Linked DNA regions of Homo sapiens: all the other regions are linked to region 1. The links come from fine-mapping of genetic effects on gene expression. A gene starts in region 1. Each other region holds a variant in brackets. All regions are shown on one strand. Distances are from middle to middle.

The links. PIP is the estimated chance that this variant, and not a neighbour inherited with it, causes the effect.
Region 2: its variant is fine-mapped to the expression of CDO1 in lung (TOPMed, PIP above 0.99). The same link has a PIP of 0.9 or more in transverse colon.
Region 3: its variant is fine-mapped to the expression of CDO1 in blood mononuclear cells (TOPMed, PIP above 0.99). The same link has a PIP of 0.9 or more in whole blood.
Region 4: its variant is fine-mapped to the expression of CDO1 in whole blood (INTERVAL, PIP 0.94).

What each region holds. Positions count from the first base shown.
Region 1 is chr5:115,811,785-115,819,897 of GRCh38, forward strand. CDO1 (cysteine dioxygenase type 1) reads right to left here and starts at 4,875. Exons shown (of 5, transcript NM_001801.3): 1 at 4,444-4,875; 2 at 1,397-1,474. The coding sequence starts at 4,613. LOC124901049 (a long non-coding RNA gene) reads left to right here and starts at 5,304. Exons shown (of 2, transcript XR_007058908.1): 1 at 5,304-5,387.
Region 2 is chr5:115,681,530-115,689,642 of GRCh38, forward strand. No RefSeq gene overlaps it. Among named protein-coding and RNA genes, the nearest start is that of TMED7-TICAM2, 60 kb to the left of the region's middle. The variant C/A (reference allele first, on the strand shown) is at 4,556.
Region 3 is chr5:115,746,596-115,754,708 of GRCh38, forward strand. The region is part of intron 1 of LOC124901048 (a long non-coding RNA gene); the gene reads left to right. Among named protein-coding and RNA genes, the nearest start is that of CDO1, 66 kb to the right of the region's middle. The variant C/T (reference allele first, on the strand shown) is at 4,635.
Region 4 is chr5:115,784,088-115,792,200 of GRCh38, forward strand. No RefSeq gene overlaps it. Among named protein-coding and RNA genes, the nearest start is that of CDO1, 29 kb to the right of the region's middle. The variant C/T (reference allele first, on the strand shown) is at 3,495.

The DNA.
Region 1 (8,113 bases):
TCTTTTCTCCTTCCTTTGGGGAGCTGTGGGAGAGAAGGTATCTATATGTGTATTACCATCCTAAAGTTACACTGTATATAAAATGTTAACATTGTGTCAATTTACAGTGCTCTACCTGTGATTACCTTCCAACATTGGTGGGAAAAAGTTAATTGGATTTGAGGAAACAAAGGATTTATTTATGCAATCTCAGAGTGAATAGTATTTAAGTATATGAAGCAGTCGTGGTTACAGGGTTAATTAAAATATATGTATCTATATACATTTTGGGTATTCATTTCATCTATTGAATTTTATTAATTTATATATGTACCATAAAAAGAATTTGTTTCCTAAATCCACAGAGTCTAGTCCCACTCTGGACATAATGTGCTTTCAAAAATATTGAGAGAATGAATGGAAACACTTCATTCCATATGAGTAAATAAATGCACTCTACAGACCTAACTTTCCAAACACTTATAAATTCATGTTTTCTTTCATAAAAATGGATCTAAATTATTGCTTTTACCATTCTCAAGACTGAGAAAGGTATGTTTCAAAAGAGAGTAATACTTAGTTGATAATAAGACTGTCAAACGTGAAACTAAAGATAAATTAAGGAGCTAAGTTTCAAAGAATCAGTATAAGTTGCCTTTTCAGTAAAGAAACTAAAGAATTAACTTGAAGTAGAAAGAAATTTTCTGAATTTGCAATGCTTTTCTAGCTTCAAATCTCCATCCTTTGGTCTTTGGTCCCACGATTGTTTACACACCTCAAACACCACAAATGTCAAGTGTAAACACAATTTCACATAAAGTTTTACTGCACAGAAAACAGAGTATGGTTAACTTAAGGGGGTTACTTACCTCATTTGATTTACTATTCATTTTGGGGGCTGGTTTTAATATGTGTAGTGTATGCCTGAATGCCCTGTGCTAATTCCATTGATAATTTTTGTTGGGATTAGGGAACATTGTGAACAAGTAAGTAGAAAATGAGGGCTGGGTGTGGTGGCTCATACCTGTAATCCCAGCACTTTGGGATGCCGAGGTGAGTGGATCACCTGAGGTCAGGAGTTCGAGACCAGCCTAACCAACATGGTGAAACCCCATCTCTACTAAAAATACAAAATTAGCCAGGCATGGTGGTGCATACCTGTAATCCCAGCTACTCAGGAGGCTAAGGCAGGAGAATTGCTTGAACCCAGGAGGCAGAAGTTGCAGTGAGCTGAGATCATGCCATTTCACTCCAGCCTGGGCAACAAGAGTGAACCACTGTCTCAAAAAAAAAAAAAAAAAAAAAAAAAAATGAGATTTGTTACTACTTGTAAGACCTGTGGCTAGCCTGGTACTATATTTTTCATATGCTAGAAAACATGCTCTAATAAATATCTGTGAATGAATAGTTATTTTACCTGCCATGTCCTTCACCCCAACAGAGAATCATCAGATTAAATTTTCCATTTCCTTGATCCACAAGATTTCGGGTATACCTAAAAAAAAACAATATATTCAGAAGTTTTAAGTTCGTTGCTGAAACAAGCACTGGAAAAAATAAGTGTGTCACCAAGTACCATTTATTCACAAATGTTAACATTTCCACCTCTAAGCAACTTTGAATGCAGTTTTCTAATTAGAAATCCAACACAAATGAAAAATCCTTTTTCACAGTTCATTTTGAACCGCTGCATTTACAGAGGTAGCTGCTCAGTTTTAATTAATGGCACGGGAAAAATAACAGGAAAAAAACCGAAATTGCATGTTTCTCAATGTGACAGCCTCAAACTGATGGAGTAAGTTTCTCAGAGAAAGTATTTCCAAAGTGCATTACTGGTTGAGGCAAGAATGTTGCTATTGTTTTTTTTTTTTTCTTTTTTCTGCCTGTAGCTAAATCAAGACTTGAGAAACAAGGTTTCATTAAATAGCTGTTCTAGAATTCTTAGTTTTACTAAAGCCTAGACACAAACCACATTCAAAAGCCCTTATAATGAAAAGTCTTCCACAAATACCGTGGGGGCTGATCTAACTACCAGAACAAAGAAGACTACATTAGTGAAGTAAAGAACCCTCTAAACCTCTTACAATTAGGAGAAACCAGTAACTGGCAAACACATACACACAGACACACTCACCACAACCAACCACCACCACTGCCACCACCAACAACAAACTGCAAACCACGACCACGACTGTGAAAAAAGCAAAATCAACGTCAAAGTTTCTATTGGTCCAAGGTGTACTGTTGACAGCATCTAGTTAGCAAAGTTTCATAATTATGACATTCATTTAGACTGTCATGTTAAAGAAAAGGGGTCTTTACTCCATTTTTTGGGAGTTTTTTTTCCCTTCGTCATCGGTTAACTCTTGTCCAGCATGCCCCTTCCATCCTGTCCCATTCCTCCCCACCCCGAGGTGTCCGAAGAGCATGATCCTAGAGGGAGTTACTTAGTAAGTGCTTTTTAGCCTCAGTTTTCCCTACTTTGTAGCCTTTATGACCTAACAAGAAGCTGTGTACACAACCTTCAATTCACAGTAAACTGAGTTCCTGCAGAAGGATCCTAATTCTTCCTCCAGAAGTCTTAGGATAATCTTTGTTGCTTCTCTGCAGCTTCTTTCAAAGAATTCACAGCCTGGCCCACACGGGAGCATATTCTGTCTTGATTCTTCTGCACTGGCCCTCCCAAAGTCAGAGAACAGAATCCTTCACAGCGCTAGGCACCTATTTAATGCAAAAAATACTGTAGAATTGACTTCTCTCCCATCTCCTGTCTTCCCCCAACTGCCCCCTCGGGACTACATCCATTATGTTAATGAGCTGTACCTCAGATATCTGTGAAAAGACCGATCAACCCAGCTGGTTGCACTTCAAAAGCTTTAGAGTTTGTCAATCGAGACTAGTTCAAGGTCCTTGAAAATACACTTGTTCTAAAGATTAAAGATTAAAAACTGTTACAACCTGTCCTGGTTTAACAGTGGTTTAGAGTGTAGGCTCTGGAACAACAATGCTAACCCCGGGAGCCTGGAGCCGCTATCGATAGAAGACCTAGTGCAAGTCATTCAACTTCTTCATTGCCTGCCATTCCTCATATGTGTCAAGTGTCTGGAAGAGTACCTGTCCCATAACAAGTCTTCAATTACCTGGAGCAAATGCAAGAAAATTTAAAAGCTAGACTCTCTGCTAGCTTTCACGGCTACAGAAGGGCTCTACCATGAACTAAGCTGATAGGAGCCAAAGGAATTTCCTCAAGTCACTTGTATATGAAAAATGGGATCCTTAGTGGTCTTCACTTTTTCTATTTCAAATCCTAAAATACAGTTGAAACCGCCCATGCCAACAAAACTTTACGAAACATCCCACATGTTGAAGAGTGACTAAAAGAACCTGCTCCCAAGAAAAACAAACTTACTTCTTTCCTTATTCTTTTCTTTCACTTACCCCTTTCTCCTAACCCTAAACCCAAAAAACCACAAAGACTGACGCACTAACTGCTCAGAAAAAGTAGAACCTCTCACACTTCGGGGTGATTAAATTTTACCTCTGGCCCCGGAGGATTGGTAGAGAGATTCGACTTAATCACCAAGCCGGGGCTGCAAAAAAGCCAGCTTACCAGGGCACCTCACTCAAGTACATCTGGGAAGTAGGGGTCTTTAATTTACATTACAGATCGTCAGAAGCAAGGATAAGATAAATCAGATCATTTGGGGGCTGAAAAAAACGACGGTCGAATATTTAATCTGCGAAACTTGGCAGTGGATTTGAATAAACCCACAGTCGGGGAAGTTAGTTAAATTGGTTTGGGAAAGGGAACAGCAGAAATTCCGTAGTGGCAGCTGACGGCCACAAGACGCTATTTTACATGAGTAAAAATGCTTGCTATAAGGTGCCCGGTTGCAGGCGACCGAAGGCGCAGTGATGGAGAACTGACGCGGGTGACTTGTCTTCTTCAACATCACACACTTCTCCCGATGGCTGATGTAGTGCTCCCCTGGGAGCACCCTCTGCTAGTCCGGCCAGACGGTTCCTTAAGGTGTCAGGAGGGCCCGAACCTGAGTGCGGTCTCTCCGCATCTCCGCGCCCGGGGTTAACGATGGCTTGGGAGTGTGGGCATTGCTCCCGAGGCCAGGGGCAGGAGGACTGGTGGTTTAGAAGCAGAGGGGTTTGCGGGAGAGAAGAGAACAGAAAATCTCGCAGACGCGCGGTGGCCTCCCTTCCCGGCGCCTGTCCGCCGTTCCCGGCCGGAGGTCAGCAAGGCCAGTAGGATCCACCTTCCGCCTGCGCTGTGGCCGCGGAGCCCCAAGCGAGTCGTGCCAGCCCCGCGGCTGGCCAGCGAGGGGGCGAGCGGCGGACGCAGCGCGGCCCGAGCTTCCCGAGCCAGTCACTTTGGGCTGCGTCCCCCACGTCCATTCCTCCTCAGACGGGGCGAGTGGGCGCCGCCTGGCATTGAAGCTGCAGCGCGCTCACCTGTACTGGTCGAACTTGGCGTACATTGCCCACTCGGTGGGGTCGCTCTCGTAGGCTTCCATGATGGCCTGCACCTCCTCTACATTGACCTCATCGCCGGCAAAGAGCTGGTGCAGGATGCGGATCAGATCAGCCAGGGTCCGTGGCTTCAGCACTTCGGTCTGTTCCATCTCGTGGGGAGCTGGCTGCGCGCGCGTCTCACTGCTGGGCTGCGGTGGAGGAGCTGAGCGAGCCAAGGAGCTGGGGGCGAGGGAGCCTAACAGCCCGCTAGACCGCTAAGCAGACACACACGCACAAACCCAGCATTAGAGTGCCGAAACGTAAGGATGTCGTCGCAGAGACAGCAAGAGACCCACCCCCAGGCCCCTGGCAGCGCAGTGGATCCGGGATCGCTGGAGACGCGGTGCACACACAAATCAGGTTCAGATCTGTGGGGTTCATCCTCCCGGGCCCCTTTTAAGCGCTTGGAGTCACTAGGAATGTACCAACGGCCCTCGGAGGGAGGACGAGGCGGAGAGCCACCCAAGAAAGGTGGCGGAGGCGGGGAGACCCTGCGGGCACGGCTCACGCGCACATCCCCGGCTTCCCCGGGCTCCGCGCCTTCCCAAGAGCCCCGTTGTCTCCGGCGTCCCAGGGATCGCGTGGGCTCCGCGCAATCTCTCCCCCACTTTAACGGCGCGTTTTAGCCGCCCGGCCTAACGCCTCTCCCCGCTCCACCTCCGCCGCTGTGGTTCGCGACGCTGGGACGTAGACAAAAAGGGTCGGAGGAGATGGCTGCGGGGACTGACGCTGAGTAAAGGAGGAAAAGAAAAGGGAAGGAGAGGGACACTTCTTCCAAATAGAGAATTGTGAGGAGCCTGCGAAAATTGAGGATGGATTCCACTCCTAGGCCAGAGAGTGCCTGTTTTGTCGATTGAAACTATCCACGATATGCCCCAGGCTAGGTGAAAATAAGTCCAAGACTTTATATATATATATATTTAAGTATACACACACACATATTTTTTAAAATGCGTACTGAAATATATTTTGACAAAGGAGACTCGGGTCTCTAGTAAGACAATTAGTGAAATGATGGAAAACCAAGAACTCTTTGATTTTAAAATCAAATATTTTCTTTTAAAAAATATCCAGTGCAAATAACCTGATATTTCATTTGATGGTGTAAAAGGGGGCTTTTTCTGAGGGGATAGGGCGGGCTCTGACGCAATAATTTAAGAGGCTATAATTATATTTGAATCTTTCAACCTTAGGCATGTGCTTGAAGGAGCCTGCTAGTACATACATATAAGGAAACACGTTTCTACGTCATGCATAGCACCTAGTACGTTGGGAACAACACAAATCAAGTACAGTAGGATTTAAATGAGAAAGATGTGAAAGGTGGAAGAAATGCAAGTGTAGATTTCTTCCTTCTCATTATGGATGGACGCAGGGAATAATTTGGATTTAAGGTTATTAAAGTTCTAGACTTCTGAAGACCTGTTTTTTTCTAGACTATGATCACCCTCCCTCGTGTATATACATGTATACAATGAAATTTACTTGTGCCAGGTAGTCTTAAACATCTCTGGTAAAACTCGCTACATTATATTCTAACAGTGTTGTTAAAAGCGGAATCACCTATTGTTCAAAAATGGCTACAAGTAGAAAGCATTCCAGAAGCCAGCCTTGGTGATGTGTGTTGCTGCGGGGTAGTGAATTAACAAAGTATTTTGTGACAGAGTAACCTGTAAACTTTTCATGGTTTCCTCAAATTATTTTTTATTCTTGGCAATGTTTTCTATTGAGTCTCTTAATTACTTCATTTCAGCTAGTCTAATCCATAAATGTTTGGAATGAACAACAAAAATGAAATGCAAGCACAATTTATCTTTTCTGCATTTCAGTTGATAAAACTTCTAAATTTTTCTGACAATTCATTTTCTTTCTCTGACTCCTCTTTTTCTTTTTACATTTTTATGAAAGTAATATATTCACGTAGTTAAAAAAAATCAATAGTACTGGAAGGTCAATGAAAAGCAGCAGGCCCTTTTAACCATTCCTGACCATCTGTCCTGTGCTTAAAGAGTCAGTCTCTTAACTCTTCTAACTATTCCTTGTGGTAGTTACTTCCTTTTTCCAAAAATAGGCTTATATTTTTTTTTGTTTCAGCAATTTTAGATATTATCTAGTCATTTTACATTATGATAGCTCCATTCGTTTATTATTCATTCATTAATTTATTCAACAAATGTTTTTTCGGGTGAATAGAAATTTTCATTTCACCTGAGTAAATACCTAGGAGTGAGATTGCTGGGCCATTTAGTCAGTGCATGTTTAAATTTGCAAGAAATTGACATACTAATTTGCAAAGGGTCTGTGCCATTTCACATTCTCAACAGTGATGTATGAGTTCTAGTTGCCCCGCATCCTCGCCAGGTATTGTCAGTTTTACCAATTTTGGCCAAATAGAGGTGTGCTGATATTGCATTGTGTTCTTCATTTTCTATATCTCTAATTCTTATGGGCAGGTCTTTGTTCTTAGAGCTCCCAAGATGGTGGCCACCGCTCCCAGGATGGCAGCAAGCCTTTTGTTCTCTGAACTGGGGTTCTTGGCCTCATGGATTCCAAGGAATGGAACCTTGGACCATGCGGTGAGTGTTATAGCTCTATTAGAAGCCGTGGGTCACAGAAGAGAACCGTGGAACCCAGCTACTAGTGTTCAGCTCAAATAGGACGAACCCGGGCACTTAGCCATGCAGGAACAATGGCAAGCCTTTAGCCGGATCGGGAGTGGCAATGGGTGCCTCGCTGGATCAGCAAAGCAGCGGACACCCTGCCGGATCTGGAGGGGTGGAAGTCGGTGGCGGGTCTGTGACAGTGGCAAACAGCAGTGGTGAAAAGCGAGCGAAAGCTCAGCTCGAGCCATAACAAACACAGACCAGAAGAGTGTGCAGTTGCTAGATTTAATAGAGTGAAAACACAGCTCCCATACAATGCGACGGCACGCAAAGAGGGTTGCCACTCCCTGCTTTAATGCCTGGGTTTATATCCGGATCATTGTCCCTCCCCCATGCTCTCAGGCGATATATTATTTGACTATTTCTTTACCTCCTGCTTTAGCCTAATTTGTATTTTAGTGAGCCCTCTTTACTGCCTGATTGGTTGGGTGTGAGCTGAGTTACAAGCCCCGTGTTTAAAAGTAGTTGCAGTCACCTTTCCCAGCTAGGGCTTAGGAATTCTTAGTCGGCCTAGGAAATCCAGCTTGTCCTGTCTCTCATAATGACTAATGATGTTGAGCATATTTTTATGTGATTAGTTATTTGTAAATAATTTTTGGTGAAATATCCAAGTATTTTGTCCTTTTAAAAACTTAATTATCTGTTCTTATTGTTGAGTTTTAAGAGTTTATTATATATTCTAGAAACAAGTCAGATGTGTGATTTGTATATATTTCCTCCCAGTCTGTGACTGGTCTTTTGTTTGTTTTTTTGGACAAAGGTCTTGCTGTGTCACTGAGGCTGGAGTGCAGTGGAGCCATTGGCTCACTGCAGCTTTCAACACCTGAGCTCAGGCAAGCCTACTGCCTACGCCTACTGAGTGGCAGGGACTACAGGCGTGCACCACCACACTTGGCTGATTTTTTATTTTTTTGTAGAGATGTGGTCTTGTTATGTTGCACAGGCTG
Region 2 (8,113 bases), 130 kb before region 1:
CATTACTCCCATTCATGAGGGTTTCAACCTCATGATCCAATTACCTCCTAAATGTCCACCTCCAAACACCGTCATTTTGGGGATGAGGGCTTCAACATATAAATTTTGGGAAGACACGAACATTAACTTCATAGCACGTCGCTATCCTTTTTTTTTACACAACAAAATATCTCAAAGTGTTTCTATTTTTTTAAATCACCCAATCCCTTTGCAAGCCACACATTTTGGATTTCACTGAGACTCCTGAATCCAAGGGATCCTTTGCATTCTTATTTAACTTGTTACTGTCATAAATTTTCACACTCATGACAACTTCCTCCTTCTTGAGACTCTCTATTTCCCCTAGTTTTTTCTAAAACGAAATGCTTGTATCTTCCTTCTTCCTGCTTCTTCCCTTCCTCTTCCTTTTATTGAAATATAATTCATATAACATGAAATTAATCATTTTAAAGTGTATAATTTAATAGTTTTTAATATATTCATTTTATTGTACAACGATTACCACATGTAATTTCAGCACATTTCCATCATCCCCAAAAGAAACCTCATACCCCTTAGCAGTCAGTCTTAATTTTCTCCTCCCATCATCCTTGGAAAATTCTCATCTACTCTCTGTTCCTATGAATTTGCCTATTTCAGATATTCCATGTAAATGAAATTACACGGTATATGTGTATGGTCTTTTGTGACTAGCTTTTTTCACTTAGCATTATACTTTCTAGGTTCATCTGTGTTGTAGCATGTACTGGTAGACATTTCTCTTTAAAGTTGAATAATATTGCATTGTATAGATATGCTATGTTTTGTTTACCCGTTCATCAATTGATGGACACTTGGGTTGAATCTATTTTTTGGCTATCAGATAATGCTGCTATGACATTTGTGTGAATGTTTTCAGTTATTTTGGGTTATACTCATTATTGAAAATAGATTACTGAAGTCTCTGTGAATTATTGTTGTCTATTTCTCCTTTAATTCTGTCAGTTTTTCTCCATGTATTTTGGTCTTTGTTGTTAGGTACTTATAAGTTTTAATTGTTATCTTCCTGCTGGGTTGACCATAAAATATCAATCTTTATCTTTAGTAACATTTTTTTACTGTCAATTTCGTTTCATATCACATAGCCACTCCAGCTGTCTTTGGTTGCTATTTGCATGATACATCTTTTTCCATCTTTTTATTTTCAACCTATTTGTATGTTTGAATATAAAGTATGTTTATTATAGACAGGATATAGTAGGATCTTGTTTTTGATTGGATTGTTTAATTCATTCACATTTAATGTTACTACTGATATAATTGGATTTACATCTGACATTCTACTTTTTGTTTTCTATATGCTTCATCTCTTTTCCCTCCCACTGATCCCCTTAACTGTTTTCTTTTAAGTGAATATTTTTAGTATAACATTTTAGTTCTTTAAAATAATTTTTTAATTTTTTTGCATTATTTTCATAGTAGCAGACTTACCATATGCATTTTATGCTTCAGAATCTACTTCTAGGTTTACACCAACTTAATTTTATCTTCTTCCCCCTTTTTGTGTTATGATTGTTATATATATTACATACATATTATATAATATATAAATGTAATATATATCTATTCCAAGTGTTATCTATCTGTCTATCTATTTATCTACCTGTCATCTATTTATCTGTCTCAGCTTTCCTCTCCCAGTGGATCTATGAACAATGCTGACTTGTCCTGGCATTGATGTGTGACAATGTGCACTCAACTGTAAACCTCTGGAAGACAGAGACCATGTCCATAGTGTTTCCTGCTACAGCCACTGAGTTACCACGCTTAATAAAGCTGAAGCAATAATGCATAGTGGTTAAAAGTGCCACCTACAGTCCAACAGACCTGGATTTACAGTGTCTCTGCTATCTACTAGTGTAGTGACATCCAGCATGTTACATAGCTTCTCTGTGCCTCATTTTCCTCATCTATCTGTGATATTGTAATGCTGTCATGCTTATTACTTGTCTGACATATTGTTTGTGTTCAGAGCTGTTCCCTTTTATCTTATCTGTTGGAGAAGTTAACTGAAGCTTCAGCACAATCTGGCCCATTATTTTACTTTTATGCAATGAATGTTTGGGGTTTTGACCATTTTTTCCTTCCCATTTGGTACCCATTTTTTAACATTAAAAACAAAATGAAACAGAATTAAAGTTTCAGAAAGAAACAAAATTCATAACGAGATCAGTTTTCAGTCGTTTAGTGGTCTTTTGGTCACAGCCAGAAATGCCCAAGCTAAGAGCCCACCTGTGATCACTGACAGCCCCCACCTCAGGCAGCTTGGCTTTCCTCAACCCCGAATCTGGCTCAGGGTCACTGTGTTCTCTAACCATAGAGGGATTTTGTTCCTTTGCTTCACCTGCAAGCAAGCTGATTTATAATTTGTCCCTTAGTATTGGGGGGTGGGAAAAGGACGCACAAGAGCTGACTAGATTACAGCTATTTTTGAGAGCATTTCTCTGTATGTTTAATATTAAATGCTAATGGAGAGAATGCTAAGATGAGAAAATTGCCAAATGTGAGATGCTGTTGTGGAAATCACTCAGAAAGAACCATAGTAATATTCAAAATGAAGATGTCTTCTTCCAGTCTTCTGGTGCCATAACTAAACCAGCCCAATTTGGTAAGTAAAAATTGGGATCTTGTCATATTAATTTGTATTTCCATGACTACTAATGAGGTGGAGTGGATTTCGATATATTTATTGGCCATCTTTTCTCTCCTATTAATTATCTGTTTATATTGTTTGATTCTTGCCCATTTTTCTCTATTGAGTTTGTCCCTGTTGCATTTGTTTGATCACTACTTATGAATATATTCAGAATATTTCTTTTTCTGATCTATAAAATATAAATATTTTTCCTGTCCGTTAACTTTTAACCTTTTCTTGCATCTGAATTTTCCTGAGGATATTGTCAATACTAATTCTAAGTCTCATTTAATTTGCTTCATAACTATATAGAGTATAAGTAAATAGCGTAACTATATTTACTCTCCAGGGCAATTCTGACTTTTGAATTTGCCCTTGGCTGGTTTCAGATGTTTGATGACCCTCTTTTGTGTCTCTATTTGAGAACTCCCTTTTGTCTGTCTAGTTCCATAGATGTATTACCAGGCTTCATGCACTGACTGGGGAGGTGTTGACCATTGGCTGTCTTCCAGATGAGGGTGCTTCCCTGTCTTCCTGGATGTCACCAGCTTTCTGGTATTATCTGCAGCCCAAGAGTCATCACTCTCTTCTCTCACCTAGGAACAGATACCTCTCTTGTTTGCTTCTGGTCCATGGGAATGAGATGGAATGGAAAAAAGAAGCTGATCAGCATGGCTCCTCCTCCCACCATCCCTGAGCAATTACCCTTTTGGTTGCCTCAGGGTCCAGCTGCTCCACTGCCTGCCACCTCTGAGACTGGGGCATCTCAGGATCCCTGGCACCTTTTGCCACAATGTCATTGCAAAGGTTTGGGGTATGGCTCTTTCTGCCTTCTATCTTCCAGGACTTTTTCAGCTTCTGATTCACTACGGCAACTCTAACTGTTTTGTTCCAACACAGGTATAGAGTTTTAAAAAATTATTTTCTCTTGTCATGTCTAAAAATTTGAAATACAAGACAGAGACTCCTTTGCTTTACACATTTGCTTCACTATTTCCTTCCCTCGATCACCTGATAGTTTTATTCTAATCTACTGGTAACATCCTTTAGGCATTGGCTTAGGTGCTGAGATGGTCTGTGGCTCTCTGAAATTATAAAGCAAAATTTTATATATCTGTAAACACTTGCATTTTCCTAGAGCGTAGGCTGGTAATTCTTGTTTTCAAAGAAAGCCATGAATCAAAGAGGCTAATGATTGCACAAAAACAAAAGACGGTAAGACAATGATTTCACAATTGTATAAGTCTTGCCTGGAATTTTAGATTTCCTTTCAAATTCTATTTTAGGATCTGATTACTTTTGATCCAGGGAGTAAAAAGTGAGAATCTGCTACGGCCTCAGCTGATTTTCCACATAGGTTTGGAACTGCTTTATGGGAATAATCTGTGTAATCACTTTTAGTCAAACCAGAAGAGAGAGGAAAGATAAGAAGTTAAGAATCCAGTCAAGGTAAGCCTGAGCCAGCAGCACCCTAGAATCCCACAGCATGCACTCAGCCCCTACAGTGGCCAGCAGCCAGGTGCTAGTTGCTTTGCCTTCTCAACTCTTTGTTTCCCTTGGCAATGACTTCTTAGAGAGGTCCCCCTGCAGAAGTGATTGCAATTGCAAATTAAGAAAATGGATGAGAGAAAATAATTATTTTCTTCCATTCTCCGAATAAGGCATGAGGTTAAGCATATGAGAGAACAAAATAAACCAATTCCAGCATGTAAATGATCAGCATCTATTTTAATAACTACACTTGGGATTCTGTAAATATAATGAATAGTAGTATATGGCTTTTGGAAACCATTTAATGGATCCTTATCAGCAGCCTACAGACAGGATCTGAATGGTCACAGCTTTGGATAATGGGACACAATTTAGGAATTGAGGGAAAAA[C/A]CAACTTTGCTAATCTCTAGAACAATCAAGAAAATGTGTGGAATTTATAAATAACAGTGGAGGGAAAGCATGAGCTGCCAGAAAGCTGCTATTCCTCTGCTTGGCTTTTAGCAGAGGCTGAGGAATTTGCTTGGGTTGTTTGGGAAATTCTTGTGATACTTATAATATAATCAGGCAGAGGTTTTCTTTTTTTAATATATTTCTGCTTGCCTGCCAAATGCTAATGATTGCTGGATGCTAATTGTCTACAGCAGTTGTTAAATGAGTTTCCCTTCACATCTCCTCTGGGGGTATTTATAAAAGGGTAAGGAATCTATCAAGAAGTATGCTGTAGAAAGCAACAAATCCCCAATCTCCTTTCTACTCTGGAGGTACTGAGTTGAAAAGAGGCCAGGGATCTTCAGGCTCCACTTATTCCTGACATCACCCAGAACCTTGGCGAGGTTCCAAAGTCTTCAGGGTTGGAGGTTCCAACAACTCTGGGCTGGAGGTTGACTAGGTCCGGGAAAGCTTTTGCAGCCCGAAGACTTCTGCCTCTCTTACCTACTTCTCGGTATTCTCCATCCCTAACCCCTGTCAACCACTAATCTGTTTTCCATTCCTAACACGCTGTCCCTTCAAAAATGTTATATAAATGGAATCATATAATACCTAACCTTTTAGATTGACTTTTTTCACTCAGCATAATTCCCTGGAGAGGCATCCAAGTTGTATCCCATTTCAACAGTATTCCATGGTGTGTATGCACCACAGCTTGTTTAGTGACTCACCTATCCAGTTTGGGTTGTGATGAATAAAGCTGCTGTGTGAACATAAGTTTCCATTCCTTTGGACTGAATGCCCAAGAGTGCAATTGCTGGGTTGTAAGCTTTAGTTTTATAGGAAATTGTCAAATTATTTTCCAGTGTGGTTGTACCATTTTACATTCCTACCAGCAGCAGTTGGATCCGGTTTTTCCATGACCTGGTCAGTGTTTTCACTGTGCTTTATTTTAGCCATTCTGATATGTGTGCCATGACATTTAACTGTGATTTTAATTTTTATTTTTCTTATGGTGAATGATATTGAACATCATGTATGCCTTTTGACCACTTTCTAGTTGGATTGGTTGTTATTAGTGCTGAGTTTTGAGATTTCTTTTTATGTTCTAGATAACTGGTCCTTTGTTGAATTCATATAACTTTTAATATGTTGCTCAGGAAATACATGATTACATTTTCACTGTGAAAATAATATAATATTTAGCAACAAAATTTGAAAGTCCCCCTCACACCCTGCTATGTAATTTCACTCATGCCACTAAGGGTCACCTTTTTTCCCCAATTTTTAAAAATTATGTTAAAAATACACAACATAAGATTTACCATCTTACTCATTTTTAAGTGTAGTTCAGTGGTATTAAACACATTCATAATGTTGTATAACTATCAATACCATTCATCTCCAGAACTCTACCATCTTGTAAAACTGGAACTCTAGTAAATAACAACCCCCTTTTGCCCTCTCCTTTTATTCCCTAGCAATCATCATTTTACTGTCTCTCTTATGATTTTGATCACTCTAAGTTCTCTCATATAAGAGACTGTGACCGGCTTGCTTCACTAAGCACAATGTCCTCAAAGTTCAACCATGTTATAGCATATGTCAAAATTTTCTTCCTTTTTAAGGTTAAACAGTATTCTATTCAATGCAGATACCACATTTTGTTTATCCATTCTTCTGTCCATGGACACTTGGAACACTTCCATGTTTTCACTAGTGTATAATATTTGGTGGACAGACACAGAAGTAGAATTTGTGGAGCACACGGTAATTCTATTTTTAATTTTTTAGGAACTGCTATACTGTTTTCCACAGTGGCTGTACCACTTTATATTGCCATCAATATAGTATTTTATATTGCCATCAATATAGTATTCCAATTCATCCACATTCTCACCAGCACTTGTTTTTGTTTTTATTTTTGAGACAGAGTGTTGCTCTGTCACCCAGGCTGGAGTGCAGTGGCACGATCCTAGCTTACTGCAACTTCCGCCTCTAAAGTTCAAGCAATTCTCCTGCCTCAACCTCCTGAGTAGCTGGGATTGCGGGTGTGCACTACCATGCCCAGCTAATTTTTGTATTTTTAGTAGAGATGAGGTTCCCCCATGTTGGCCAGGCTGGTCTCAAACTCCTGACCTCAGGTGATCCGCCCACCTCGGCCTCCCAAAATGCTGGGATTACAAGCATGAGCCATCTCACCTGACCTAGTTTTCTGTTTTATGATCATAGCTATTCCGATTGGTATGAGGTGGTATCTGATTACAGTTTTGATTTTCATTTCCCTAGTGATAAGTAATATTGAACATCTTTTCATGTCCTTTTTGGCCATTTGTATCTTCTTTGGAGAAATGTCCATCCAAGTTCTTTGCTCATTTTTGAACCAGGTTGTTTGTTTTTCTGTTGTTAAGTTTTAAGAGTTCTCTATATATTCTAGATATTAATCCCTATCAGATATATAATTTAAAAATATTTTCTCTTACTCTGTAGCTTGCTCTTTTACTCTATTGACATTGTCTTTTAATGCACAATATTTAAAAACTTTATCAAGTCCAGTTTGCCTACTTTTTTGTTTCCTGTGCCTTTGTTGTCATCCAAGAAAGTATTGCCAAATCCAATGTTCTGTAGCTTTTACCTTATGTTTTCTTCTAAGAATTTTATAGTCTTAGCTCCTAAATTTAGGTCTTTAATCTATTTTAAGTTAATGTTTGTCCATGGTTGTAGGTAAAAATCTATCTTTATTCTTTCACATGTGGATATCTACTTTTTTCAGCACCATTTGTTGAAAAGACTGTCTTTCCCCAGTGAATGGTCTCACACTATTAACAAAAATCATTTGACCATATATGCAAGGGTTTATTTCTGGGCTTTCTATATTTTACTCCATTTGTCTGTCTTTATGCCCATATCACACTTTTGATTATTGTAGCTTTGTAGTAAGTTTTAAAATCAGGAAGTATGAGTCCTCCAGTTTTGTTCTTCTTTTTCAAGATTGTTTTGACTATTCAGAGTCTCTTGAGGTTCGATATAAATTTTAGGATAGGTTTTTATATTCTGCAAAAAATGTCATTGGGATTTGGATAGAAATTGCATTGAATCACTTTGGGTAGTATTGATACCTTAATATTAAGTCTTCCGATTTATGAACATGAGATGTGTTTTCATTTATCTGGCTTCATTAGTTTCAGCAATGTTTTGTAGTTTTTGTTGTACAAGTCTTTCACTTTCTTGGTTAACTCCTAAGTATTTTATTCTTTTTGATTCTATTGTAAACAGAATTGGTTTTGTAATTTCCCTTCCAGATTGTTCACTGTTAGTATATAAAAATCTAGTTGATTTTTGTGTGTTGACTCTGTATCCTGTGACTTTACAAAATTCATTTATTAGTTTTAATTTTTGTGTGAAATCTTTATAATTGTATACATATATAAAATTGTATCATCTGTGAACAGAGATATTGTTACTTCTTCCTTTGCAACTTGGGTGCCTTTTTTTCTTGCCTAATTGCTCTGCCTAGAA
Region 3 (8,113 bases), 65 kb before region 1:
ATGTTCCCTCCATGGGTGGGCTCCAGCTGAGTTTAGTTTGGTTTTCCTTTCTGTTCAAACACAGCACTGAGTTCAATGCCTCACAATTGCTGTGTTCTCCCTCCCTAGCTGGAGATGATCTCCACACCACACCGCTGCTGCCAGAGGGAGCATGGAGGGATGGTGTCAGCAATTTGGGACTGTTTTTTCTATCTCTTTAGTGCCTCTTTCAACAATATGAAGTTAAAACCAGGTACTGTGAGTGCTCATCTGATTTTTGGTTCTTATGAAGATGTTTTTTTTTTCTGTGTAGATAGTTGTTAACTTGGTGTCTTTGCACGGGGTTGCAATCTGTGGAGCTTTCTATTTCGCCACCTTGCTCCACCTTGCTCCAACTCTAGTTTTCTTTGATTGAAGCATTTCCTTCTCTTATTTTCCTGAAGCTTACCATCCAGGAAAAGACTCTCAAGATTCAGTGCATTCTCTTTGGCTTTGTCTCTGTCATTTCCCTCAAGAGTTATCCATTTTGTGGCTTCACTGTGCATTGTTTAGGTGTGTTTTTACAAAGGGATTATTTCCCCAATTTGCATTCCAACCTCCAGTAGCCATTGGTCATATCTACATAGATAAGCCATTTAGACCTGAAACTTCATCAGTTTTAAACCAAACTCAAGACCTAACTAATTTATATGCCTCATTTTATTTATATGAATGGTGTCATCATTTCTAGCTACACAAGCTCAGAGTCTCCAAGTTATCCTTGTTTTCTCCTCTCCCTTAACACCTGAGCACTAAACCGTAAGCCAAAGGCAGTTCTCAGGATCCAGCAGTGAGTGAGAGGAGAGTACTGCAAGATATTTTTGGTTACAATTTAGTGACATTTTTATGCCCTGATGATATTCTAGATACACCACAGCCAAGCTACTAGGTTAAGTTTATGCCTGTTCTTCATATCCCCTTTCTTCTCATTTAATTTTCTTTTGCATCCATATCTCCAGTTTTCTTTGAATTCCTTTCCTAGCTCTTTCTTTCTTTGTTTTATCTTTCTCTTTTATTGGTAATCAATCATATTTTTTAAAAGTATTATATTCCCTTTGTCTCTCCCCATCAGCATTAATTTATTGAACAATACCTATTCAATCCTATCTACTTCTCTATCTCTCTATCTATCTCACATCATACTTCATTGGTACTCATTTTCATCATCTTTCTTAATCTTAAAACCATTCCAAAGGAACAAAGACCATTGTATGGCAGACAGGCCCGATAGCAGTAACTTCAGCACATCCTGAAAATGACCCTATGGTCTAAGAAGAATTTGCTCAGTGTCCCAATCTAAGGAATCTAGGAGTGGCCAATCCAGATTCACTCCTTATCTATGAAGGACATCTGAGCCCCTGGCTCATCCCTTGCAATGCAGGCCACACAGGGGATCAAAGCCGTTTGTTTTGGTTAGATTGCGGTAGCTAGGTGGAGGGTGCTAAGTGAAAATGCTATATAAACTGTCTGCTTTTTATAAACGGTAGCGGTTTGCCTGACCAGCCTGCCACCAAAGGCCCATACCTGTATGTAAATCCCCCCAGTAAACCCTATGTCTTGTTCACTGTCTCTTCTTCATCTTCTCAGACATAGTGTCATCCCTACTGGAGTCAATAGGGGTCCAATACAACAACCATTTCCATGTTATTCATTATTTTATCTTGTATCCCATGGTGCCAAGCACTTAGTAGGTGTTCAGTAAGTGTTTGTTAAAGGAAAAAAGGATGGGAGGGAGGGGAGAAGGGAAGAGGAGAATTTGGCTCCCCACTTTGCAGATAGGCAACTAAGACAACAGTCATACAGCCAATTAGTGATGGAGTCAGATTTCTACTCCCCATCTGGTTAAAGTCCAAACCTGTAATAAGGACACTGCTCTTCTGTGTCCCCCACTCTATACTAGGTGCTAAAGGAGAAGACACATATGTAAAAGACAAAGGTTCTGCCCTCCAGGACTATATAATTTAGTAAGGGAGTTAACTACATGAATAACTATAATATAAGTTAGGATATAATTATGGGTCCACAATCTCCAAAATGATTTGTTCAGTATCTAGCTTCTGGGTAAATAATTTTAATGTGTAACAGAATAAAACAAGTTAGTAAACAGTCTCCATATAGAAGGTTCTCCTTTCCCCTGGAGCCTTGTGGTTGCCCTTAAGAACAAGAATCTTAAAATTTAAACAAAGAGGACACTCTCTAACACAAGTCAGATCCAGAGGCTCAGGTTAATGAAGATGCCTGTATAGTTCCGAGACTGACAACAGATTCAAAGTCCTGAGAAACAATTCTTCACTGCTGGCTCATAAAAGCCAAAATAGTGTCATTAAAATGTGATGTAGTTTATTATCTTTCATAAGTTGGCTCAAAAGAGGAAACTTCTTTATGGCTTGGAAAAGATAGAAAGTGAATTCATTTTTAAAAGACTAGAGTAGACAAATAATGTAGTCTCTCGTGCATACCACACCATCTAATTCTCAATACAGTTCCTCCTTTAAGGAAAAATAAATATGAGTATTTATATAGTTCCAGGAAGTATCTTTCTATTACAGGGATGGTGGCTCATGGAACCAAAAGGAAAATATGAGTCACTTGCAAGGGACCTGGTTGAAAAGCTACAGGTTGAGACTTGTTTGTTGATAGGAGTATTTGTGACACCTATGATTTGGACCAAGTGTTTACTCTGAGGATTGAGACCTTGTAATAAGATGAGATTTATATTTCTCCCAGAGTATTAGTAAGGAGATAAGTAAAGATCTCTCTAAGTTCCTTGGAGCACTCCTATTTTATCTTTTCCTCCTTTGGCTGTTGTTTTTCCTTCTGTTAATTTTCAGCAATCTTTTTTTAAAGTGGCCATTTTTTTCAATAATTGCAACTTGGAGGGTTAGATCTGTCCAGAGGTTTATTGGGTATATTTTGGCAGTCCAGACTGGGTGAGTAATTATTTCAGCTGCAGATTCATAATCTTCTTAGCTTTATTTTTTGGTCTAGTCTCTTTCCCTTTTTCATTTTTAATTAAAGTACAAGACAACTTTTCAGCAAGATTAATCAAATTGTGAGTGTGAGAAGTAGCCCAGCTAGGGCAATGTCTCTTTACTATTAGAGCTAATTTTTTGCGTAGCCCATTTATAAACTTGGAGTTCAGGAGAGTCTCATTTTGATGATTAGCAGAACTCACCTCAGATAAACCTGAATATTGTCTAAAAGTCTTTTCAAATCTTTCAAAATATAACACCACTGACTCACCTAGATGTTGTTGACATCGCTGTATTTTATTCCAATCAACTCCCTTTTAGAAGACTAAAGAAATGGTTGCAAGTAGAGCCTTTCAGTGTCACGGGCATTCCTGCAGTCTTCTTTTGAACATTTATGGAAATCCTCTAGGGGTTTTGCCAACGGGCTTTATCTATTCAAGCCTCATTTTTAGCCTTGTTTTTGAAGCTAACATGTAAACTAGTTGATATAAATCAGAAATACCAGGGTCATAAGCTCAAATACTTAAATTCCATAGCAGGGCAAGGTAATTTAGACAGTAAAGGATAGAGACAAAAAGGACCCGAGGGAGGAGAAGGGAAATCTTCTGAGGGAGGAGAAGCTTCAGCAACCATTTTAAATTCAGAAATTGTTTTAGACAGTCTTCTGGGTTTTTTTTCCTGCAAAGAAATAACTTTATCAGAACCTCTTTTGGATGCATTCAAATACCATTGAAAATGACATTCCCAATTACTCTGTTTTATTCTAGTCAGCTTTTTTAAATTTGAACTTGCAAGTAAATTAGTTGAAGTTTTTCAAAGGTATCCCATTTCAGCCATTGAAGTTTTGGTTCTTCCAAGTTATATGGGACCATTTTTAAAAATAATGACAAGGTGTGGTGCCGTAAGTATTGTACATGAATCTAGCTGGAGTCTCTAAAGGTGGATTTTTCCTCAAGGAAGACTTGGTTTTAGATGGCTGATTGTCCATCATTTGCACTTTTCTCTTAAGGACTAAAAGCTAAAAGGGAAAGGTGTTTTGGACTGAGTGTACTGCTTAAGGGACTAGCTCCCCAAGGTGTCACCCTTGGGTTGGTTCTTCCCTTTTATGTGTCTCAATGAAAAACAGGAATTCAGTGTGCTTAAGGCACTGGGAGATCAGTCCCTTATATGTGCCCACAAGTTTAAGCAAATTTCCCTGTATTTTCTTCTTTGGGAATTCCCTGTGGGACCATTTCTTGTCTCGATTGATAAGCTCTGAAACTTGCACAAGTCCTTGGTTGCCTAAGGTGCCTTTGGCTGGGAGGAACAGTGTCCCTTTTCTTCAGGACTTACCACATCCTAATAAAGGTCTTTTGTTAATTATTGGTCACTCAAAAGAAGAATTCTAATTTGCCAAATTGAACCAAACTTCAAAACCTCACCAATTTAAATCACAATTTTGCTTAATCCATAGACATTTACTTTCTCCTATTAAAGAGAAACCAGATTTTGAACTAGAGAAAAGGTTGCAAACTTTAGCAAGTAAGACGAACAAAATCTTAACCTCAAAGATGATTAAAACCACAAACTTGCAAACAACAGAATCTCTAGAGAGATAAAAAAATGAAACTACTACCTTAAAGCTTTAAAGTTAAGCTTCAATTC[C/T]AGCTCCATCCGGTATGGAATCAGGTTGCTTGAATACAGTCTGCATTTCACCTAAGCCAGGGAGATTTGAAACCAGAGAGGAGCCTTACCAAGGGCTTCCCACAAACTCCAGCAAAAGTCAGTTGGATGGAAACAGTTCATGCTGGTACCAGCATGCTGGACTGTAAAGAAAGCAGAAAGAGTCAATGTAGGAAGCTCACTATGGGTCCCATCTGGGTCACCAAAATGTCAATCTGAAATAACGGAAAGGATAAGAATCTAGTTTAAATGAGTTTATTCAAGTGCAAAACTGAGGATGGCCATTTGGAAAATACAGACTCCAGAGAAATGGGGTCAGTGCTCAGAAATTGAAAAGGCAAGGTTTTACTTATATCAGCAGAAAACAAGGATATTTAACAGGATTATATTTCCATACAAGGCTGGTTTATGAGTTACAGCAATTTGATTTGTTATAGCTTGTTCCCCTCCCCACCCCCACCATTTTAAAGAGTATATTTAACATTCCATCTTAGACAATGTGATAATCATGACGTCTTTGCGTTAAGAGAAGAAAGAGGGAAATTAATCTACAATGAAGATCAATAGTTAAGAGTAAATGAGTCATTTCTGGAAACTTTAGTCTTTAAAAACATTTTACAAAATAATATAGGTAAAGGAAAAGGCTAATGTATAACCAGAGAAAAAGAGGTTACAGCTGCCTAGGTTATATACGTCTGTTACATGACTCAAATCCCATAATCACATTCCATTAAGGCCTAAAATAATTTAAAATTCCAACAGCTTTTATTTTATTTTTCTAACTTTTATTTTAGGTTCAGGGGTACATGTGCAGGTTTGTTATATAGGTAAACTGCATGTCACGGGGGTTTGGTGTACAGATAATTTCATTACCCATGTGATAAGCATAGTACCCAATAGGTATTTTTTTCTGATCCTCTCCCTCCTCCCACCCTCCACTCTCAAGTAGGCCTTCGATGTCTCTTGTTTCCCTCCTGGTATCCATGTGTTCTCGTTGTGTAGCTCCCACTTATAAGTGAGAACATGCAGCATTTGATTTTCTGTTCCTGTGTTAGTTTGCTTAGGATAATCGCCTCCAGCTGCATCCATATTGCTGCAAAGTACATGATCTCATTCTTTTTATGCCTACATAGTATTCCATAGGGTGTGTGGGTGCCTGTGTGTGTGTGTGTGTGTGTGTGTATACACACACCACATTTTCTTTATCCAGTCTATCATTGATGAGTATTTAGGTTGATTCCATGTCTTTGCTATTGTGAATAGTGCTGCCGTGAACATACACATTCATGTGTCTTTATGGTAGAACTATTCATATTCCTTTGGGTATGTAGCCAATAGTGGAATTGCTAGGTCAAATGGTAATTCTGTTTTAAGTTCTTTGAGGGATTGCCACACTGCTTTTCACAATGGCTTAACTAATTTACACTCCCATCAACAGTGTATAAGTGTTCCCTTTTTTCTGCAACTTTGCCAGCATCTGTTGTTTTTTGACTGTTTATAATACCAATTCTAACTAGTGCAGGATGGTATCTCATTGTGGTTTTGATTTGTATTTATCTAATAATTAGTGATGTTGAGTATTTTTTCATATGCTTCTTGGCTACATGTATGTCTTCTTTTGAAAAGTACCTGATAATGTCCTTTGCCCACTTTTTAATGGGTTGTTTGTTTTTTGCTTGTAAATTTGTTTAAGTTCCCTATAGAGTCTGGATATTAGAACTTTTTTGGATGCATGGTTTGCAAATATCTTCTCCCATTATGTAGGTTGTTTACTTTGTTGACAGTTTATTTTGCTGTGCAGAATCTTTAGTTTAATTAGATCCCATTTGTCAATTTTGGCTTTTGTTGCAATTACTTTTGGTGTCTTTGTCATGAAACATTTGTGAAGTCCTTCCTGTGTCCAGAATGATATTTCCTAGATTATCTTCCAGGGTTTTTATAGTTTTAGATTTTACATTTAAGTCTTTAATCCATCTTGAATTGATTTTTGTATGTCATATAAGCTAGGGGTCCAGTTTCAGTCTTCTGTGTATGGCTAGCCAGTTGTCCCAGGATCATTTATTGAATGAAGAGTTCTTTCCCCATTGCTTGTTTTTGTCAAGCAATGTGGAAGATCAGATGGTCATAGGTATGTGGCGTTATTTCTGGGCTCTCTATTCAAAGTATACTTCAAATACTTTCATGCTGTTTTGGTTACTGTAGCTCTGTACAATAGTTTGAAGTATACTTTGAAGTATAGTTTGTAGCAATGTGATGGCTCAAGATTTGTTCTTTTTGGTTAGGATTGCCTTGGCTATTCAGGCTTTTCTTTTATTCCATATATTAAAATAATTTTTTAAAATTATGTGAAGAATGCCATTGGTAATTTGAAGGGAATAGAATTGAATCTATAAATTGCTTTGGACAGTATCGCCATTTTAACAATATCGATTCTTCCTATCCATAAGCATGAAATGGCTTTACTGTGGAAGAAATGTGGATTAGATCAGGGGTACCCATTCCCCAGGTCATAGACTGGTATCAGTCCATGGCCTGTAAGGAACTGGGTCACACAGCAAGAAGTGAGCGGCAGGTGAGCATTACCACTTGGGTTCCACCGCCTGTTAGATCAGCGGCTGGCATTAGATTCTCATAGAAGCACAAACCCTATTGTGAAGTGCCAGGGATCTAGGCACTCCTTATGAGAATCTAACTAATGCCTGATTATCTGAGGTCGATCACCCTGAAGCCATCCCTCCACTCTAGTCTGTGGAAAAATTGTCTTCCACAAAACTGGTCTCTGATGCCAAAAAGATTGGAGACCACTGGATTAGATTCACACCTTCCCTGAGGTTTTCTTCTTCATGTTTCTATGTGCCTCTAGACTTCTGTGTACTTGTGTGCTGATCTTGTTTTATCTTATAAAACCCAGATGTAAAAACTCAGTCCTTTCACAATAAATTCATTCCCAGCAAGCCCTTTGTGAGTTTTTGCTGACTTCTCTGAGGGTTTGAGGATCATTCGGGCTTCCACCATCCCAATAGCTGTTCAGCCTTTCTCCTGCCTGATTTTTTGAAAGCTTTGGTGCTAGCCAATGCCTGGCCCTGAGAGGAGTGTAAATAGAATAAAAGAATAAGATTTTCTCTTTATCATTAGATTTGTGTATGTATAGCTATGTATGCTCATATGTGTGTGTGTATATATACATATATATAGAGAGAGAGAGTGTGTGTGTGTGCATGTGTGCGTGTGTGTGTGTGTGTGTGTTTGCTATTTCCCCTGGATATTTAAAAATTCAGGAAGCTATTATTCAAAAGTTAACAGTGGCTACCTCCACACAGTAAAAGCTCAGGTAACTTTTATATTCTTATTCATACTTTTCTGAATTTTCTGGAATTTTTACGAGCATGTACTACTATTATAAGAGAAAAAATAAAGCTCAGTTTTTTTAAACAAGACTGGGAAACATAGGGAGACCCCAT
Region 4 (8,113 bases), 28 kb before region 1:
CCAAAAAACCCAAAATTATATAACATTTTTTCTAATTGCCTATCTTGTTGCCTATGAATATGCAATGTCCCTCTTCTATCACACTGAGGGTATTAATTACAACTATTTTGGAGTCTTTTCTGTTTGTTCTATTTACCCTGTTTGAGTTTGCTTGTTTGTTGAGCTTGGTGCCTCACTTTCCCAGTGTTCCTCAAATGTTTGGTGATTGGTAGTTGTGTTCTTATCTTTGTACCTGTGGTTCTGTATATACAGGTCTGTGGATTCCACTGCAGTTGACTACAGCTTGCCTCCAGGGACATAAACAGATAAAAGATGTATAACTTCCTATGTGGGGTGGGATGGGACTTGTGGCCAAGAAGAGGTGTTCCAACCATTGCCTTCTGGGTGAGAGGTTTTCCCACCCACCTTGGAAGCTGACAGCCATGTGGTAGCACTGCTTTGTCATTTTATCCCCAGGCCCCATCTAGGGTGTCAAACAGCTGCAGCCCACTGCTTTGTGCACCCAAGAGAAAGGGGATGGGCTGATTTGTCCAGAACGTTTATCAGTATTATAACTATATTTGATCTCCATTAGGAGACCTGTGAGAGATTTCTTAAAGCCCCCTTAAAAATACTTTTGCTTTATGATTTGCAAATTGCATTAAGCCACGTCTAAAGAAATATGAAATTTTCAACTTGTTGTTTAAAAAAGGCAAAACTAGCCCTTAACTACATTCCTGGTAATGTTAATTGATCTCACAGAGGGAAGGTGGAATTATGCCTTTGAATAAAGCAAAACAGGTAAGCAAATGCAAAAGGGTTATATGCTAAGTCAGACCTTATTTTAAGAATTTTTAGTGGGAAATTATTACCATCATCGGCAACACAATGAGTAAAAGAAAAACTAAGTGCCCCTTAACAGAATAGATCTTCAAGATTTCTATGTAATTTGAGGAGAATAAATGAGAGACAGAAAAAAGGAATAAGCTCAATTTAATTTGATGTTTTTAGAGAAACCAAGGTCGTTCAAATGATATTTTTTTAAAAACTATACAAAGAAAATCTTATTACTGTTACATAAAACGTTTAATGTTTGTGACAACTAGAATATTGTGTTTGGGTAGGGTTGCCAGGCATTATTTGCATACAGGGCATATCCAGTGTCCTGTATTGACTTTGTCAGAACACATTAAATGCCCTGTATTTGGCTTTTCCCCCCAATAAATTAGAAAAATTCAGCAGCTAGAGCTATTTTTCTGCACCCATAATTAGTACTTAAATTACTTAAATAGCAACACCAGCTAGAAATCATTCTTTTGGAAATAAACATCTGGACAATCCCTCATTGTCTCTCCTGCAGATTTGGCTAAGAGAAGACCAAAAGAGGAAACTGAGAATTAAAAGTACTTATTTTTCATATTTAAGAAAGTAAAAGACTATTTTTTTGGCCACATTTCCGAGTTGTAAATGAGTAAGCATTGTTCATTCCCAGACGACTTTGTATCGACACACAGGCTCTGAAAATCAGCCAAACAGCCATTGCTTCACTCCTATGGCCATGCTTCTCATCATCAATCAGTCAGAAAACAGCCTCCCTACAAGCTTCTGAAATGGAGAAAATCCATAAGAGCCCAAAGCGTCTGAGAGCTAATCAGTCTCAGTAATCTGAGATGCCCCACACTCACAGATAACAGCCAATCGGCAAGGGTCTCCCTCCAGTACCCTTGCTCCAGAGTCAGCCAGTCAACAGCAGCCTTCCTCCAGTGACCACAGTAAGGTAGCTGAAAATCCTTCAGTCTCTAGGCACTTCACTTCTGAAAGCCCGGCAGTCTCTGAATGTCAGGATTCTGAAAACCTACATAAGATCAACTCTGGCTTTGCTCCAGCAGACTATCTTACAAGCACAGTTCTTACTGTGTCTTGTAAGTTATCTTCAAGCTCTTTGGGTAATGAAGTTGTTCATTCAGCATAAAAAAAAAGTCAGCTATAGGCCAGATGTGGCTCATGCCTGTAATCCCAGCATTTTGGGAGGCAAAAGCAGTAGGAACTCTTGAACTAGGAATTTGAGACCAGCCTGGGCAACAGAAACTGTAATGGCTTTCCCTGGTGTATGTCATCATCAATCTTAAAGCTCAAATGACTATCTGAAGGTACTGCTACCAGAGCATTTTTCGATTCCAAAACTGCAAGCAAATATTTAAGTGCCAGGACAAAATCTACAGCAATAATAAAAAATATAATAGCTGCATTTACTCTACAGATTATCAAAGATCTAATGTCTCACCTTTTGTGGCATAGCCAAGTGTGAATAAAATAATCACGATCAGAAAAAAATTTCTTATTTCTTGTGCAGCATTTTTCCTGTAAAAAAGGATTGTTTATAAGACTATTGTGAGTAAAATCTTCCAGAGGAGACTTCAGGCACATTGGAAAATTTTAGTGGACTTTATTAGTGAACTAGGAATTCATGAGATAAATTGTATAGCTTTTGGTGGGGACCATGTAAATGTATGCATACAGGTACAGAAAATGTGTAGTCAAAGTTGAAGCAAAGCATGAATGATTGTATAGAAGATGTTGACTGTCCTGCCTGTATTCTGCATAATGCTGTTCAAATAGCATATGATGTTCCTTCTACTGATATTGTCACAAAATTGTTATGAAATTCTTCTCTTACTTCAGCATTTATGCAGCATGTCCTCAAATAACATCGTTTTGTTCAACATCATTCCCTTGTAACGTTGATGAAAAAAGTTGTCTAAATTGTCACAGTAGGAGTGTGTGTGAGAGCACCCTGCAGTGAGTTGGCATCCTGGCCAGCGTGGGTTCCCACCTATGCCCTGAGCTGCTGGGATAGGCTCCGGCCACCCTTGACTCTAAACTGGAACAATTGGGTAAATAATTATCTTGTTTGTATTAATCTTTCCCAATAGTATGTATAGCTCACATTTATTTCAATGTTTAGTATTAGAAGTGTTTTGGGTCTTTATGCAGAACTTTGATGATGTTTTTGTGACCAGAAACATGCCATAGAAACTTTACTCTTGTTTACACCAATCAGCCTATGGTGAATTAGTTTCATTATATGCAATTCCACTTAGTCACAGTTTCTAAGAACCTATGGAGGACCTAAAGTGAGGACTTACTATACTTATAAGCAGCGTTTTTCCATTCTATCAGATTCAAAACTTATTGGTCTCTTTAACGAATGTATTTGGGAGAATCCTCATATGAAATCATACTTTAATTCTGAAGGAAAGACCCCCCCCCAAATTCTTGTTGAGTACTTAAAAAGTTTATTAAGTAAAGGCTACTTATTTCTTTTTCATATTTTGCAATTACTTTAGCAAGAGGATTATGCAAATTAAAAGAAGAACATTTTTGAAGTAGTTGTTTAAGGAAATTATTAAATGCCTTAGAGAATGACTTGAAAAATTTATTCCTTTAATTATCAAAGTTGTTTTAATTTTATTTTGTTTTTATTTATTTACTTTTCTTGAGACATGGCCTTGCTC[C/T]GTCACCCAGGCTACAGTGCAGTGGTGCAATCACAGCTCACTGCAACCTCTGCCTCCTGGGAGCTCAAGCCATCTGCCTGCCTCAGCCTCCTAAGTAGCTACAAAACTTGTTTTTAAAAGTGGCAACATTACTTTGAACAAGAAAAGAAATTCCAACTTGGATTAATTCATTATTATGGCACTTATTATAACTATGTTTTGAAATTGATACCATCCCTTGAAGAATTTGATTCTTTTATAGAGATATTATTAAATACACTTTCGACATGGAAACAAGAGGAATCATCATATGTATTGTTGAAGAGGAAGGGAATAAAAATTCATAGCAATGCTCTTTTTTGACATTGGACAACATTTTAAAAGTCATTGATCAAGATGCAATATAATCCTTAAGAATAGAAAAGCAAGTTATGTCACCAAAGATGGTATGTTCTTCAACAAATTAAATTCCAAGAGTACTTACTGGGATTTTAATTTTAGGCCAGTACATGCCTAGAATACCAGCTCGTAATGAGCATGTTTTGTCATTGGTAAATGTTAAATGCACAAAAGAATAAAACTAGTTGGATGGGACCACTGTAGATGACGTGTTAAAATGGAAATGGAGTATAGATTATAACCACAAGGAGTTTTATAAGTAAATTCTGGAAAACAAAGAGCTGTTAAGGAGAGCCATTAGGGTGATAAAATTTTAAAAATGGATATGTAATTTTGATGGTTATTATTTATTTCAGATAAACAAGAAATACTTTTTATAGTAAAGTATGTCTTATGTAATATTTTTCATTTCTCTAAATGTATATATATAGGCAACTAGAAGTAAAACTTAACTGGGCATTCTGTTTTATTATTTGCTAACCTGCAACTGTATATTTAGCTCAAATTTAAGTTTTAGTAGAGATTGATTTTTATGTGTTTTATATATATAGCCATATATATACAGTTTATAATAAATTGGGGCACTTTATATATAATTTTGCCTGTTGTATAAGACTTAGTAATATTGCTTGCCTTTTATTGGTTATACAGGCTTAGCTATTTTAATCTTTGTTCTTACGCAATATCATTAGCAATATTATTCTTTTTTTCAGAATAGCATAGTTTTTAGCAGCTTTATTGAGAGAGAAACATACCATATAACCCACTTACTTGAAGTGTACAACTCAATGGTTTTTATTATATTCATATAGATGCAACCATGGCCACAGTCAATTTCAGAACATTTTCACCATCTCAAAAAAAAACCTGTGCCCTTTTGCTATTTGGTTTTGTCCCCCATCCTTTATACTCCAGACCCCCATTGTTTACCCAATGCCTGTGCCACCATTGTATCTTGGATGTAAATAACTGCTTTTGATCTTACAGACTCATAAGTAGAAGAAACCTGCCTTGAGTCTCAAATGAGACTTTGGACCTTGCACTTTTGAGTGATGCTGGAGTGAAGACTTTTGGTGACCATTAGGAAGGGATAATTATATTTTGCAGTGTGAGAAAAGCATGAGATTTGGGGGCCTGGGGGTCAAATGATATGGTTGGGATGTTTGTCCCCTCTAAATCTCATATTGAAATGTGACCTCTAATGTTGGAGGTGGGTCTAATGGGAGGAGTTTGGGTTATGAGGGCGGATCCCTCATGAACAGCTCAGTGTTGTCCTCATGACGATGAATGAGTTTTCACTCTGAGTTAATGTGAGAGCTGGTTGTTTAAGAATGCAGTACCCCCACCCCCTTGCTCCCTCTCTCGCCATGTGACATGGCTGCTCCACCTTCGCCTTCTGCCGTGAGTGAAAACTTCCTGAGGCCCTCACCAGACGCAGATACTGGCATCATGCTTCCTGTACAGCCTGCAGAATCATGAGTCAAAATAAACCTCTTTTCTTTATAAATTACCCAGTCTCAGGTATTCCTTTAGAGCAATGTAAACAGACGAATACACCCATCTTTATGCACTGCTAATGTACTTTCTATGTTTATAGATTTGCTGATTCCAGACATTTTGTATAACTAGAACCATATAACATGGTCTCCTGTGACTGGATTCTTTCACATTTAGCATAATGTTTTCAAAGTAATCTGTGCTATAGCAAGTTTCTTTTTGAGACAAGGTCTCACTTGGTTGCTCAGGCTGGAGTGCAGTGATGTGATCATAGCTCATTGCAGCCTTGAACTCCTGGGCTCAAACAATCCTCTTACCTTAGCCTCATGAGTAACTAGGACTACAGGTGTGCATCACCACACTCAACTAATTAAAAAAAATTTTGTAGAGATGAGGTCTTGCTGTGTTGCCCAGTTATAGCCAAGTGTTAGTACTTCATTCTTTTTTATGGCCAAATAATATTCCATTGTATCGATGTATCACATTTCGTTTATCCATTTACAGCTGATGGACTTTTGGGTTGTTGCTATTTGGGTTGTTACTTACGGTTGAAATCGCTGGGTCATATGGTAAGTCTATGTTTAATCATTTGAGATACTACCAGCCATTTTCCGAAGTGACTGCACTGTTTTTCATTCCCACCACAGTGTGTGAAGGTTCCAATTTCTCCAAAACCTCATCAGCACTTGTTATCTGACTTTTATATTCTAGCCATCCTAGTGGGTGTAAAGTGGTGTCTCATTGTGGTAACAAGAATAGACAGAATTGTGTTAGCTTCTACTATGGTAATTGCTGTGGAGACAAAAGACAACTTTAACTAAAATAATAATAAACAAATAAATAAGCACCCACTCAAGAGGATTCTTTTAAAGCAAAAAAGGACTTTCTGTGACTATGAAGCATTGTTTTTAAGTTAAATAATCCAGTAAAAAATGGAAAGAGAGGAAAGAAGCAGTTGAGAATCCAATCAATGGTGTGCTAATCAAGTGGAAGAAATATTTCAAAAGAAAGAACAAAACTTCTGATCTATGTAAAGACGGAAGTCACCACCTTGAAAAGGTTTGCTAAATTTCAAGCAGGATTAGAAAAATAAGTCATATGTCAATATCTAGATGCAGCCTAGTAAATTTCTGAATGAAAGGATAAAGAGAAAATCTTACATGCTTCCAGACAAAAGACAAAATCTCAGATTGGCATCAGACTACTCAAATGCAGTGATGGAAGCCAGAGGATGGTGGAATAGTATCTACAGGATGTCAAATGAAAGGAGCACAGTCTAAGAAGCCTACTCTCAGCCAAGATGCCATTAGCCTCTCAGAATAAAAAGCAACCTATGGGTGAATATACTATGAGTTAGATAATATATTCCCACACATATCTTAGCTGAGGCAAACGCTAAGAAAGGAGACCTCAAGCTCAGGGAAGCTCAAAAGAAGATGCGAGAGTGATGCACAATTATATTGTTGTTTAAATATAAATAAATAGTGCTACAGAGATAAGGACTTTTTTATGTCAATGCCAAATAAACTCTTAAAATTGAAGACATATGAGAGAAAAATCTAATAGTAGTGTAGAACTAAAAATACCAAAGGATCTCAGCAAATAGGAATTGGAGAAAGGTGGGAGGTAAGGGAAGCTTAGCATTCAAAAGCTCTTATTTAGTGACTGAAGAAGCAAAAACATGATAAGAATGAGCAGAGGGCAATAGGACCCTTTGGTATCTTGTTTTTATTCAATAGTAGAAAATATTTATTAGGACTATGAGAAATTAGAAAATGACCTCCAGTGGGATGGAAAAGTGAGAACTTCTAAAATAAGAGTCACTAGCCCGGGGAATTTGGGAAGAACCTCTGGAAGTTTAATGCCTAAGGGCTGAGTTTCCTGACTCTTAGCATCTGAATTTCACAGACTGAAATCAGGATGCTTTACTGGTCTCCTGATCAAATTTGTGAGAAAAAACCTGCTAGAGAGGCAAAGCAGCAGAATGCACGGAGCACAAACTTTGGAATCAGATAGAACTTGGTCCCAATCAGAAATCTGTCACTTTGCCACTTGCTCTGAGTCTTTGATTGTCCTTGTCTGCAAAATGCGGATAAAAGCAGCTCCCTCACAGATTGTTGAGAAGATCAAGTAAAATAATATGTGAATATGCAGTGCAGTGCCTAGCACAAGTAGCTGTGCTACAATAGTCATTTTTATTTTATTATTACTCTAATGATGTATTTATTATTATTTATTATTTCTTACCCTAGCCTGTTCAGATACTCTGAGGCCCAGAGGACCAGGTCGGGCTCAGCTGGTGAGTCAGAGGCTTTTATTTCAGCATCCTGACCACTGTATTAGTTCTTCCCTATGTGACTTTGCTGTGCAATTTCAAAGCCACTCTCTCATGCTGAGATGACCCAGGATCATTCTAAAATCTCACCTCCCACCTAGACTGGCTATTTGGACCATTGTTTATTTGAATCATTGAAATATCCTTAAATAAATTTGTTCATTGATTTCTTTACATTTTGTGGGGTGAAGACAGGGTGAAAGAGGCAAAAAGAGGTAATTTCATGGCTATTCTGAAAGAAAGAGGTGAAAATTATTTTGTTAAGTAACAGACTTCTGATTCCAAGCATTTTGGATTTTGAAGTTAAAAGAAATGAGGTTGAGTTTGACTTTCCCAGACTAAAATTGATACCTATACATTAAAAACAATTTTTTTGCCAGTTGGGTCTACGTCAGTTTCCTGCCGTTAT